Homo sapiens: one gene and its partner. The protein of the gene in region 2 interacts with the protein of the main gene of each other region in a pairwise test. Each region holds a gene or a part of one and is shown on either strand. Other genes may lie near its edges.

What was found.
Region 1: the proteins of CTNNBIP1 (region 2) and MSS51 interact in binary tests that used the Homo sapiens proteins (3 or more experiments, as listed by UniProt).

What each region holds. Positions count from the first base shown.
Region 1 is NC_000010.11:73,423,533-73,430,565, reverse strand, and holds the end of MSS51 (putative protein MSS51 homolog, mitochondrial), read left to right. Parts: exon of another isoform or gene 1-2,264; 5' UTR 2,265-2,281; coding exon 2,282-2,502; intron 2,503-2,797; coding exon 2,798-2,953; intron 2,954-3,834; coding exon 3,835-3,959; intron 3,960-4,188; coding exon 4,189-4,755; intron 4,756-5,374; coding exon 5,375-5,468; intron 5,469-5,793; coding exon 5,794-6,013; 3' UTR 6,014-6,987; downstream 6,988-7,033.
Region 2 is NC_000001.11:9,900,257-9,907,289, reverse strand, and holds part of CTNNBIP1 (beta-catenin-interacting protein 1), read left to right. Parts: intron 1-7,033. UniProt on the Homo sapiens protein: Prevents the interaction between CTNNB1 and TCF family members, and acts as a negative regulator of the Wnt signaling pathway.

The sequences.
Region 1 (7,033 bases), on a different chromosome or scaffold from region 2:
TCTCACTGTGGTTCTGATTTGCATTTTCCTAATGACTATTGAGCATATTTTCTTGTGTTTATTGTCCATTTGCATATATTCTTTGGGAAAATGCCTATTCACATGTTATGCCCAATTTTTTAGTTGGGTTGTTTGGTGGTTTTTTTGTTTGTTATTGAGTTGTGGGAATTCTTTATATATTTTGAATACTAACCCCTTATCAGATATATGGTGTGCAAATATTTTCTTCCATTCTTGGGGTGTCATTTGACTCTGTTGTTAGTTTAGCATCCTTTGATGCACAAAAGTTTTTAATTTTGCTGTCCAATTTATCTATTTTGGTGGTGGTGGTGTTGCCTGTGCTTTTGGTGTCATATCCTAGAAATTATTGCCAAACCTATGTCATGAACCTTTCCCCATAGACTTTTATAGTTTTACTTCTTAAGTTTAGGTCTTTATACTTTAAACATTCAAACTCGAGTCATTCTATTTCATTAATTTGCAGAATGTTTCTGTCTATATTTCTGTGTTTATTCTCTCCTCTGTGCTTAGAATTTATTTTTTCCCTATTTCCAAGTATTCAAAGTATTCCCATCTTTCAAGGTCTATTCCAACTGCCACCTGCTTCATGAAGAAAGCCACTGAAGAGATTCTCGCCCACTGAAGAGATTTTCTTCTTCTGATCTCCCATTAGTGCTTTAGTTGCACTTTTCTGGTTGGATTTATATAGTACCTTATAGTCTACATCTAATCTCCCTGCAAGACATTTAGATATATATTTCTCATATTTGCTTCTATATATAGTGTTTCGCAAATGATTTCATCTGTTTATCAGTAAATATATATTACATGAATGGACATTTTAATTTTTCTCATATGGTCCTTTCTGTTTACTCAGCTCTTATGGAAGGCATGGCAGAAGATGAGACAGGGAAAGAGGACAGCACAGAGTCACAGCCAGATCGTGACTGAGTGTAGGCTTACTTCTACCTCAAAACTTACCACTTTAGGAAATTTTTCTGACTTGCTTGACTACATAACTCTTAGTGCACGTTTTGTATTACATTTAATTTTTACTTCTTGGCTTATTGCTTATACATGTGATAATAGGTCTTTCAAAATAAATGTTTTATCTCTCTATATTAAACTGTCTAACTCTCCAATTGGATGGTCACTTTGGAGAATTAAAACTTCTATTGCTTTTTCTTCTTTTAAATTGAGTTTTAAAATACATTAAAGCTATATTAATATTTTCTCCTTATTAAAAAAGTCAAACATTACAGGTAAGTATACAGTTCCATTTGATCAGCCCAGTTCCTATTTAACTGCCTTCTTAAACTATTCAGAGTTAATCACTGTTACCAGTTTTCTTTTTTTTTTGAGACAGAGTTTTGCTCTTGTTGCCCAGGCTGGAGTGCAATGGTGCGATCTCGGCTCACCGCAACCTCCGCCTCCTGGGTTCAAGCAGTTCTCCTGCCTCAGCCTCCCAAGTAGCTGGGATTATAGGCACCCACCACCACGTCCAGCTAATTTTTTGTATTTTTAGTACAGATGGGGTTTCACCATGTTGGCCAGGCTGGTCTTGAACTCCTGACCTCAGGTGATCCGCCCGCCTCAGCCTCCCAAAGTGCTGGGATTACAGGCGTGAGCCACCACGCCCAGCTGTTACCAGTTTTCTATGGGCCCTGCCAAATCTTTTTTGATGCATTTACTTATATATATATATGTGTGTGTATATATATATATAATGTATAGGACTTACTATGTGTAAATTATATTCATATAAAATTACTTCTTCTTGGCTGGGTGCGGTGGCTCAAGCCTGTAATCCTGGCATTTTGGGAGGCCAAGGTGGGTGGATCACCTGAGGTCAGGAGTTTGAGACCAGCCTGACCAACATGGTGAAACCCCATCTCTACTAAAAAATACAAAAATTAGCCGGGCCTGGTGGCGCCTGCCCGTAGTCCCAGCTACTCGGGAGGCTGAGGCAGGAGAATCGCTTGAACCTAGGAGGTGGAGTGAGCTGAGATTATGCTGCTGTACTCCAGCCTGGGCGGCAGAGCAAGACTCTGTCTCAAAAAACAACAACAACAACAAATTACTTCTTCCCTATTTTCCACAGCTGCCTATGGTGATCAATAACCAGTAAATACTGAATAAATCTTACTGATAACCTGGGTCTGAGAGACTGGAATGAGAAATGAAAGGTCAAGCATATGAAAATACTTCACAAGTGTCCAGCTTGTAAAATTCCATTCCATGTCTATTCTGCATATAATCTCCAGGTATCACTGGACAGGCCATGGCTCCACGGTCCCGGCGACGAAGGCACAAGAAACCTCCCTCATCAGTGGCTCCCATCATCATGGCCCCAACCACAATTGTGACCCCTGTGCCTCTGACCCCCTCAAAACCTGGCCCTAGCATTGACACACTTGGCTTCTTCTCCTTGGATGATAATGTTCCTGGCCTATCGCAGCTGATCCTTCAAAAGCTGAACATGAAAAGCTATGAAGAATATAAGTGAGTGACCAGCTCTATGGAAAAGGGATATATTGTCTCTGGTAGAAGTAAATTTCAGAAGGTGGAGAGGGAGTACAGTTTGGTGAATATGGAGTATTTGCAATAAGAGATTTTCTCATCCTTTTGCCAGTTACTATATTACTATAAAAGAAGAAACATTCACTTAAGTGAAAAATGATGGCAGTGGGAGACATAGGAGTAAGTGGAAATGTGTAGGAGACAAGATGGGGGGCATGAGAGATTTTGGAGATATTCCTTTCCCCATTGTCATTCCTTCTCCATGCTGTCTCTGCAGGTTGGTGGTAGATGGGGGTACCCCCGTATCAGGCTTTGGATTTCGATGTCCTCAAGAAATGTTCCAGAGGATGGAAGACACATTTCGATTCTGTGCTCACTGTAGAGCACTCCCTAGTGGGCTTTCAGACTCCAAGGTTCTCCGGCACTGTAAGAGGTGACTTGTTGGGGGCTAATAGGGAGACATTCAGAAATGATCCTGTATTAGCCGGGCATGATGACTCATGCCTGTAATTCCAGCACCTTGGGAGGCCGAGGCAGGTGGATCACATGAGGCCAACCTGGCCAACACAGCAAAACCCTGTCTCTACTAAAAATACAAAAATTAGCCTGGTGTGGTGGCACACACCTGTAGTCTCAGCTACTCGAGAGGCTGAGGTGGGAGAATTGCTTGAACCCAGGAGGCAGAGGTTGCAGTGAGCCAAGATTGCACACTGCACTCCAGCCTGGATGACAGAGCGAGACTCTGTCTCAAAAAAAAAAAAAAAAAAAAAAAAGCAATGACCTTCTACTACAACCTCATTCCAAGAGGAAAGATCTGAAAGTTTTCAAAATAACCTAAGACTTAGGTCCTCATTTTTTGTCACCCAGGCTACAGAGATTAGAACAGTGTTCTAATCCTGCTTATTTTTGGTGTTATTGGGAAGTGAGACAAGAAACCACAATACAATCCTCTCTGTCTCTCTCTTGAGTACTCAAGGAGTAAGACTACATTTGTTCTGGGGAGGTGGAGGTTGAACCATACCTGTTATGAGAGGACAGCTGCAAACTCGTGGTGTTTTTTCTAAAAGTGATATAAAAAGTGAGTTGTTCCAGATAGAGAGTAAGGTATCACTCTGTCTGGCAGAATAATTATATTCCCAATCCCTCCTGCCTTGTCTGCCAAATGTAGTCCCCAAAATTGGTGCATCAGCTCTCATTCCTCTCCCTACCTTCCTTACCCATTCACCATCCTAGGTGCAGGAATATCAGTTCCTTTCCTCCGATAACCCCAATCATATTTATAGTATAAGAACTATTTCTCTCTCATTCTCTCAGGTGCAGAAATGTCTATTACTGTGGTCCAGAGTGCCAGAAGTCAGACTGGCCCGCACACAGGAGGGTTTGTCAAGAGCTTCGTCTTGTGGCTGTGGACCGTCTCATGGAATGGCTTCTGGTCACAGGTGGAGTGGTGGTGTTGAGGATCTCTGCCATAATGGTCATAGTTGATTGCATTTAAAGGAAGATACAAAATCATATTGTTATGAAAAAATGAGGAAGTGGGGCAAAGGATGGGGCACGCCTGCTCACAGGTTGGCAGAGTGAACATGGAGGGAATATTGATCATTAGTGAGGGGGAAATTTTGAAGCCAGGAAAGCATTAGGTTACTTCTTATTTCTTCTTTCCTACAGGTGATTTTGTTCTACCCTCAGGACCTTGGCCATGGCCACCTGAAGCTGTACAGGACTGGGACTCCTGGTTTTCTATGAAGGGGTTACACCTAGATGCTACATTGGATGCTGTGCTAGTTAGTCATGCTGTGACCACCTTATGGGCCAGTGTAGGACGGCCAAGGCCAGACCCGGATGTCCTGCAGGGATCTTTGAAGCGGCTGCTGACAGATGTCCTGTCACGGCCCTTGACTCTAGGCCTAGGACTTAGGGCCTTGGGGATAGATGTTAGGAGGACTGGGGGAAGCACAGTGCATGTGGTTGGTGCTTCCCATGTGGAGACATTTCTTACTCGCCCAGGGGACTATGATGAGCTTGGTTACATGTTTCCTGGGCACCTTGGACTCCGTGTGGTCATGGTGGGTGTAGATGTAGCTACTGGCTTTTCACAGAGCACCTCAACTTCACCCCTGGAACCTGGCACAATTCAGCTTAGTGCCCACAGGGGCCTCTACCATGACTTCTGGGAGGAGCAAGTAGAGACCGGGCAGACACACCATCCAGATTTGGTGGCGGCATTCCATCCAGGTAAGAGTCATTGGTTCAGGGGAATAGAGGGTGGCTCCCCTGAGAATTTTCCATCCTGAATCTTCTGTCTTTGGAACCCCATTCATTTGGTCTCATTAAACACAATATGATGACAACTTTTCTTTTTTTTTTTTTCTTTTTTTTTTTTTGAGACGGAGTCTCGCTCTGTCGCCCAGGCTGGAGTGCAGTGGCGCGATCTCGGCTCACTGCAAGCTCCACCTCCCGGGTTCACGCCATTCTCCTGCCTCAGCCTCCCGAGTAGCTGGGACTACAGGCGCCTGGCTAATTTTTTGTATTTTTAGTAGAGGCGGGGTTTCACTGTGTTAGCCACGATGATCTCGATCTCCTGACCTTATGATCCGCCCGCCTCTGCCTCCCAAAGTGCTGGGATTACAGGCGTGAGCCACCGCGCCCAGCCTGATGACAACTTTTCTTGATAATTTGCCATATGTACTACACTTGGGTTCAGAATTTTTCATTGAAGAGTGGATGATGATGATGATGATAATGACTGGGGATAAGCAAGGTGAGGGGTGGGGTGCTCACAGTCAAAGAAATATCTTGCTCTTAGGGTCTGCTTTAGTCTTTCCCTATTCCCATTTTCATTTTTGTTCCACAGGTTTTCATTCCTCCCCAGACTTGATGGAGGCTTGGCTGCCCACCCTGCTGCTACTTCGTGACTATAAGATTCCTACATTGATTACTGTTTACAGGTTTTGACCTCATCCTATTTGTGATACTTCCCTGACTTTACATCTCTCTTTATATAGATGAGCTCATTTTTGCCCCCCTCTTGCTCATCTACCTTCTGGTGAGGATGTTCTTTTCCGCATATGGCTTTTTTATCCCCTTGGAACAGTCCTTTGCTAGTTAATGGAATATTTAATGAGACATTTGGGAGGGAAAGATAGCCCTTGCCTAGTCCAGCCTTAGGCAATTTGGGGGATGGGTGATTACAGAAATGTCAGGCTCTTGGGCAGTTTTTCCTTTATCTCTGTCACAATCAGTAGAGTAATTTTTCTTCTCTCTCTTCTACAGCCATCAGGAGTTGGTATCCTCTTTGCAGATTCTGGTGGAACTGGATACACACATCACTGCCTTTGGGTCTAATCCTTTCATGTCCCTCAAACCTGAACAGGTCTATTCCAGTCCCAACAAGCAGCCAGTATACTGCAGTGCATACTATATCATGTTTCTTGGAAGCTCCTGTCAGCTGGATAATAGGCAATTAGAAGAGAAAGTGGACGGCGGGATTTAAATAGATCATAACTGGACATCTGGAAAACGGGGAGTTTGTGATGAAATTACCCTGCTAATGCCAGGTTCTTGCAAACTTTGAAAAACATTATATTCTAAACCTCATTTACTGTTTGGGTAAAAATTCTAAGCTGAATGAGAGTTTCTGTATAACATAACTGGTTTCTTTCTTTTTTTGAGATGGAGTCTTGCTCTGTTGCCCAGGCTGGAGTGCAGCGGCATGATCTCGACTCACTGCAGCCTCCGCCTCCTGGGTTCAAGTGGTTCTCCTGCCTCAGCCTCCCTAGTAGCTGGGATTACAGGTGCACACCACCACACCTGGCTAATTTTTGTATTTTTAGCAGACAGGGTTTCACCATGTTGGCCAGGCTCGTATCAAACCCTTGACCCCAGGTGATCTGCCTGCCTCAGCCTCCCAAAGTTCTGGGATTACAGGCATGAGCCACCATGCCCAGCCAATGTAACTGGTTTCTAAGAGTTTAGCCACAGTAGCTTCTAGAGATAGGAAATTAGATTTAGTGGGTGGGAAGAGGCCCTGATGCTGGTCTTTCCAGAGCTTATAGTTGCTAACACTTTTCTTTGTAAAGAAGTTTACCTTTTGACTGGAACCAGATGGCACTGAGAAAAAGAATGAGAACCACCTTATTCTTCTGAAAAAGACTTTCTTCTCATCCAGTAATTTGGGCTAAAAAATGGAAAGATGTTGATGACTTGAAGTGATGCAAGAATGGACAAGTCAGGGAAGTCATTGGGAACATGGATGAGGTTGTAAGCATTGGTACAGTGTCCTGTTTCCTGACTTTTTTGAGAGAAATGTCTACTTTTCCTGTTTTCTCTTGGGGACTTTTGACCCTAGAGTAGCCCTGGTGTTATATTTTAGATATCCCAAGCTATATCAGACTTTACCTGAATATACTGGAGTTACTTATTATCCCCCATTCTATACCCCAATAAACTCAGTTTGGGGCTTCTTAAGTCACTTGTTTTATTTCCTATTCACTGGCAAGTATTACTCATCTGC
Region 2 (7,033 bases):
CTGAGGCAGGAGAATCGCTTGAACCAGGGAGGTGGAGGTTGCAGTGAGCCAAGATCGTGCCACTGCACTCCAGCCTGGGCGACGGAGGAAGACTCTGTCTCAAAAACAAAAAACAAAAAAACTCCCCAAAAAACAGAATAAAACTTATCTCCATGCTGCTCCAAATCTGTGCTGTCAGAACATGTCAGAATGAGAGGACCTTGGGGGTTACACAGGCCAGCCCCTTCTTTTATGGTTAAGCGTCTGTGTCCCCTAGAAGCTGGCTCTTTTGAAATCTTATAGCAGTTTATGCATTTTCTTATGATGCCTGCTAGTTTCTACCCCATTTCATCTCCATGTGTACACATGTGACTCTAAGCTTTCTGAGGCCAGAATCTCTACTGGGTTTGTCTTTGCATCGTCCACAGTGTCTGAATCAGCGCCCTGCACAAAATGTAAACTCTTCAAATATTGGTTGACTTGCCTGGGCATCTCATCGCACCAAGACTCCTGCCCCTGCCCCTGTCTTTTCATCAGACCATGCTTCTTGTAGACTCCTCATCCAGGGTGCAATATAGTGTAAACCCAGCAGTGTCTTGTTCACAGGGCTCACATGACAGGGCAGCCCTTCCTTGATGGATCTGCTCTCTCCATCCTTGCCTGTGGGGAACAGCTGCTGCTGGTGCTGACCAAGTAGTCACTTGACACTCAGCAAATATGAAGTGTAGCTCTTTATTATTATTTTTTTTTTTAGATGGAGTTTTGCTCTTGTTGCCCAGGCTGGAGTGCAATAGCACAATCTTGGCTCACTGCAACCCTCTGCCTCCTGGGTTCAAACGATTCTCCTGCCTCAGCCTCCCAAGTAACTGGGATTACAGGCGTGTGCCACCACGTCTGGCTAATTTTTGTATTTTTAGTAGAGATGGGGTTTCACCATGTTGGTCAGGCTGGTCTCGAACTCCTGACCTCAGGCGATCCACCCACCTCGGCCTCCTAAAGTGTTGGGATTACAGGCGTGAGCCACCGTGCCTGGCCTGAAGTGTAGCTCTTAATTAGACCATGGACTTTGTACCAAGACCATCAGGTTTGGATCTTGGTTCTGCCTTCAGGAGCTGCATGATCTTCAGCAGGTAACTTAATCTCTCTGTGTCTCAGTTTCCCCATATGCACAATAGTAATACTTTCCTCATGGAGTTGTTGGGAGGATTAAATTAAGTAATACCTAGTAGATACTCAGAAGACCACCTAGCACTTGGTATATGCTAAATTGAAGTAACCATTATTTCGCCTTTTTTTATCTGCTTCTTAGCTCCCACCAGCATTTAAGCTCTTTGAGAGCAGAGATTTTTGTCTCTTTTTGTCTACTCTTATAATATAGTACCTAAACTTTGTAGTACTCTGAAAATATTTGTTGAATTGAATGACTGATTGAGCACCTATGTGCTAGGCACTGTTGCGGATGCTATGGACGTAGCCAAGAACACGGTCTTTAAGAGGCATGCTCTTATGAAGTTTATCTTCTAGTGGGAGAGACAGATAGTAAACAAATAAACGAGTCAACAAAAGAATGTAGGGTGGTGAGGCCGGGCGCGGTGGTTCACGCTTGTAATCCCAGCACTTTGGGAGGCCGAGGCGGGTGGATCACCAGGTCAGGAGATCGAGACCATCCTGGGTAACATGGTGAAACCCCGTCTCTACTAAAAATACAAAAAAAAAAAAAATTAGCCGGGCATGGGGGCGGGCGCCTGTAGTCCCAGCTACTCAGGAGGCTGAGGCAGGAGAATGGCGTGAACCCGGGAGGCGGAGCTTGCAGTGAGCCAAGATCGTGCCACTGCCCTCCAGCCTGGGCGACTAAGCAAGACTCTGTCTCAAAAAAAAAAAGAATGTAGGGTGGTGAAAGAGATACGGGGGAAAATAAAACAGAAGATAGAAAGTGGATGGGACGAGGGTTAGGGTCATAACTTTAGCTCTGAGAAGGTGGCTTTTGGGAGACATGGATGGTGATCTAGGGGGACAGCTTTGTGGACAGAGAGGACTGCAAGAATGATCAACCCAGAGGGGCTGGAGTGTGGTTAGTGATGAATCAGCAGGGGCCAAATTTGTGGCTGTGGTTAGGAGTTTGGATTTTACTTTTGAATTCTGAACAGTGGGAAGTCACTGCATGGGAACTTTTCCTGGGGTCTAGGAGAATATTTGAGTCCACACTAAAAGACAGAACAGGACATTACGAAGAGCGGCTGGAATAGGCTCTCCTTGTCCTGGGAGGTTTTTGAGGCCAGCCAGAGTATTGAGTTTCTTCCCATCAGGTTCCTTATTTCTCTGGCCTGGTCCCCTGAAGATGAGGGAAGCATCAGCTAGGTTGATGACAGTCCTGGTATGTGTGTCTGTGTGTCCTGCATTTTATTGAGCTTCCTTTTTTCCGAGTCCCTAAGTCATCAGCAAACATTTCTTGAGTTGAATGAATGAATGTTGCCAGTGCTTAGCAGCTTGTCGTCTACAGTGGAATGTCTGTGTTCTCTGCTCCTCTCTGTGTGAGTTAAAGCTTCTTATCTTGGCAGTGACTCTTAAGTAGTCTTGGAGTTTTGCAGCCATTCTTCATAAATGCATCAGCGACACACATACATGTATATCACTGTTTCTTTGTTGAGAGTATACCAAGATTGACTGGACAGCTTTCCTACCCCCACCCTATCCCTACTTCTCTGCCAGTCCCTGCCATCACCAGGCCCCTCTATAGAGGGTTGGGCCACACTGGCAACTCTGACCATCTCCTGTTTGATTACTTGATCAGGAACACAGTGGTATCTAGAAAGCATTGGTTGTCTTTCATCTGGGCTGAGCGGAGTTGGGTAACTCAGCAGAGCGCTGAGAGAAATGGCATTTCAAACCCAGGGGCTCCACTCACCAGGAATCCAGAGTGGGACTCTTTAGACTGGGTGCCATTGGCCAGCTTTTCAGATCCCTTTTTGGTCCTCCCATCAGTTGTCCACGATGCCACTTGCTCTGCTAACCTGGAGAGACCAACACAAGTTAGTGGGAATCAAATAGGACGCTTGTGTTGCAGGTCACTTTCAGAGTCCTGGGGCATTTTATTGGCAGAATCTGAAATGCCTGCTAGTCATATGTCATCTGTAGATTTGTAAAAACTAAACGCAGAGTGGGTGCAAGCTTTTTCTCATGTAGCTGGTTTTCTTACTATGAGAATGATACGTGCTCATTTAGAAAATGAGAAAGTGAATGATAGTGGCATTTTACATACACTGTCTCATTTCATCCTCACGGTTTCTGAGATACGTACCATTATTACCATTTTGTATGTTAAGAAGCTGAGGCCTAGAAAAGTTAAGTAAAGTGTTTGAGGTCGAGCTAGTTGGGAACAGAATCAGATTCAAACCAGGCAGTATGACTCCCAGGCAGAGCTCTGAGCACCATGTCATATACTGATTCTCAGCAGAAACCATAGAGAAGAAAGAAAAGCCTCCCTTAAGCCCAATGTAGGTGATACTCTTAGGGTAGTCAGAGTTAACTTGCTGGCTGCTCCAAAGGGTTTGAATCCTAGGCCCTTTCCCTGTCTTGTCTGACCCTGGGCAAGCTAAGTAGCCTCCCTTTGCTTTACTTTCCCTGACTGTAAATGGGGATAATGATACTTGTACCTTCGTAGTTCCCAGGGGCATGGTGGTGTTTGAGCCAAAGTGCTTTTGAACTTCTTTTATGAAAGGGAACTGAGCACCAACTACTGTTATACTCAGTTATTAAAGACCTATTATGCTCTGGTCTTCCATGAAGCCTTGTTAAAAAGGGAAAGACAACAGTCCCCAGAGGGAAGGGTGTCCTTCTGTGGGGGAATAGCTGGACAAAAACATTGTTCTCCCCTTTTGAAGTTTCTTAAGGATTGAGGGTCATACCTGTGGCTCCATTTTTCATGGTTGTGTTGTAGTGTAGAAACTTCTGTAAACAGGTATGTGTTCTGTGCATCATAACATGATTGAGGACCCCCAATGGCAGGGCCAAGAGGGAGTTAAAGGGCTTGGTTTCTAATCTTGGTTCTGATGTTTTTTATAAGCCAGGATCACAGAGACACCAAGAAGTGGTGGTTGTCTTCCATTACTCCTCCCTCCCTCCCCTCCTTCCTTCTAATGACTCATTGATTCAATTAACAAATATTTATTAAGGCTTTATTACAATCTGGACACCATCATAGGTACTAGGAATATCGTGGCAAGCAGGACAAAAATAGTTATTCCCCAGCCGGGCGTGGTGGCTCACGCCTGTAATCCCAGCACTTTGGGAGGCCAAGGCAGGCGGATCACGAGGTCAGGAGATTGAGACCATCTTGGCTAACATGGTGAAACCCCGTCTTTACTAAAAATACAAAAAATTAGCCTGGCGTGGTGGTACGCACCTGTAGTCCCAGCTACTCGGGAGGCTGAGGCAGGAGAATTGCTTGAACGCTGGAGGCGGAGGTTGCAGTGAGCTGAGATTGCACCATTGCACTCCAGCCTGGGCAATAGAGTGAGACTCTGTCTCAAAAAAAAAGAAAAAAAAAAAAGTTCTTCCCCATACCAAGCTCTTAGTCTAGGACCAAAAGGCTTATTATATAGTTGGGATCGTGTGAATGAAGAAAGAATGATTTGATGAGAGTGCTTTGAACTCTTAGGAGGAGAGTCAGGACATGATCTCCAGATGCACACTGGCCCCAGTGGCTACCTGCCCTGAGTGGACATTAAGGTGGGGGGCTGGGTTGGCTTTCCAGAAGAGCAAGGGAAGAGTGAAACAATTAGAGCCCTTCCGTGTCCTGTAACAAAAGCTGTACTTGGTATGGACATCTTGAGAAACAGTGCACACCTCAGGAGCCATGGTTAGCAAGAACTCCCTTCCCACTTAAAGCCTTAACCCTTTGACTGTTAACTTGAGTTTCAGTCAGGGAGAAATGCTCATATTGAGGATTTCTTTTCAAAGTTTTTGCTTGGGGCTGTGGATTTTGAAGTTCTGCCATTAACACGGTGCACTTCTTATGTAACAGGCGCCAGACCTTGTCTCTGCAGAGTTCTCTTCCTGCCCGACACGTCTCTCGCTGCCAACTTTGGAAAGCAGGCATATGGTGGCAGGCGGGCTCTCCACAGTGCTCATGGGGTTCCTGGGGGAACTGATGCACATGGACACCTATGTCCTCTGGCCCCCATTTTGGGTCAATATATACAGATTAGAGTGGGGGCAGGGTTCTTTCTTCCCCAAGCACCAGGCCTTCAGCTCTCTTCAAAGACCAAGGTCAGGGAGGTCTAGCAAGCAGTTCATGTGAAAGCACACAGTGTTCCTCTCTCCCTCCAGCCAGGGCTGGGTAGAGAGGGCAAAGGGCTGGCAGAGGCAGCCACTCACATTTGGAGTGAGAGGAGGGTGCCAGGACAGCGAGGCATATCCTTGTGCGATGTTATTTTCACCAGCCCTTGTCATGTCACTGTATGTGGCACTCCCGGTGCTAATCAGCTGGCCCTTCAAGCTGAGGGGCGGGGCAGCAGCATCCAGCATCTGATTAGGAAGGCAAGGCCTGCACAGCGAGGAGGCCAGGTCACTCAGTGCACCTGGACATCTTCAAGTGTGATTGGAGCCCGCAGTGACGCTGTTTCAGCTAGAAGATTGTGACCCACTTCCATATCCTCTCCCACATGGAGAGCTGGGGAGGAGGCTTTGAGAGCCAGCTCCAATTAAGGTGTTTTTTTCAGGCCCGAGTAGCACCCAAGTGTCTAACCCACATGTTTTCTGCTGCTGGAATCCTGTGGTCAATGTCCTTGACCTGAACCGAATAACCACCCCAGGGCAGATGAAGTTACCACCCCTGAAGTCCTAGATTCCACCAGCAAGGCTTCCTGCAAAGATCAGGATCCCTTGTGGATCAAACACCTCACATAATATGGGCCCCACCCCTGTTCTTCCTGATCAATCACCAAGCAAACCTTGGACCAGTTTCCAAGGAGATACTTAGCCTTGACCTCCCTGCCCAGACAGGCCTCACAGCCACCTGCCTCAGGCAGCCCTGGCTTCCCAGAGACCCATCCTGACCCTGACTTGCACCCTTGCCAAATATCCTAAATATCCTTCTGCTGCAGGAATATGAAATGAGACCTGTTTCTGAACTTCTAGGTTTCTGTTATTCTTTCCAGGTAGATGACATTTTAATGCTTCTCTGTAATTTTACATTTCTTTTTTGTGTGTTGGGGAGGGGCCTGGGGTATGATTTAAATACGTGAAGCTGTTAGTACTGGTAGCACTTAAGCTGGTGAAGTGGTGGGTCTGAGCCCCTGAATAATCCCATTTTACTTACCAAGAAGGGAGCAAAAGTACCTGCCAAGGTCAGCTCTGGCTAGGCCCTATGAGCCTGTTCCTGAGCGTGTGCTCACACTCGGCTTCTGGACTGAGGCAGAAGGTCCTTCTCCCTCCGTGTGTGTTAATACTGTTGGCACTGCCCACAGCCTCCAGGGGCACATAGCCTTCCTCTGGCCGATCGCTGGAGTTGCAGGAAGATGAGGTGCTGGTGATTTTTTGGAAGACATGGTGGGGCTTACAGGCAAGCAAGCTGGCCCCCAGTTCTGCTTTCCTGCACAGAGCAGTCTTCCAGAGTTTGTGGTGGGATGTAAGGGAGCTCGGGCAGCCGGAGCAGTGCAGAGACCTGGCTCCTTCCTCCCTCCTGAGGTCTGCTGCTGCTGGCACAAGGGGTCACGTGTGCCCGTTTGCCTTGTGTTTGCTTTGGGTGCTGGCTTCCCACTCTCACTTCCTAATCTCTAAAGAGGAGTGGCCTGTTAGGTCCATGAGTGGTGACAGTGGAGATTGAAGTGCTTAGCGTCAGGCACCGCACTGCACTGGCAAGAGCACTCAGATGAAGGGTGTTCTTTCATTCTCATCTGACCGCATTCCACTTCATTTAAAAACATCATTCGCCCAGGCTGGAGTGTGGTGACACGATCACAGCTCACCGTGATCACAGCCTCAACCTCCCAGGCTCAAGTGATCCTCCCATCTCGGCCTCCCAAGTAGTTGGGACCACAAGCACATGCCACCA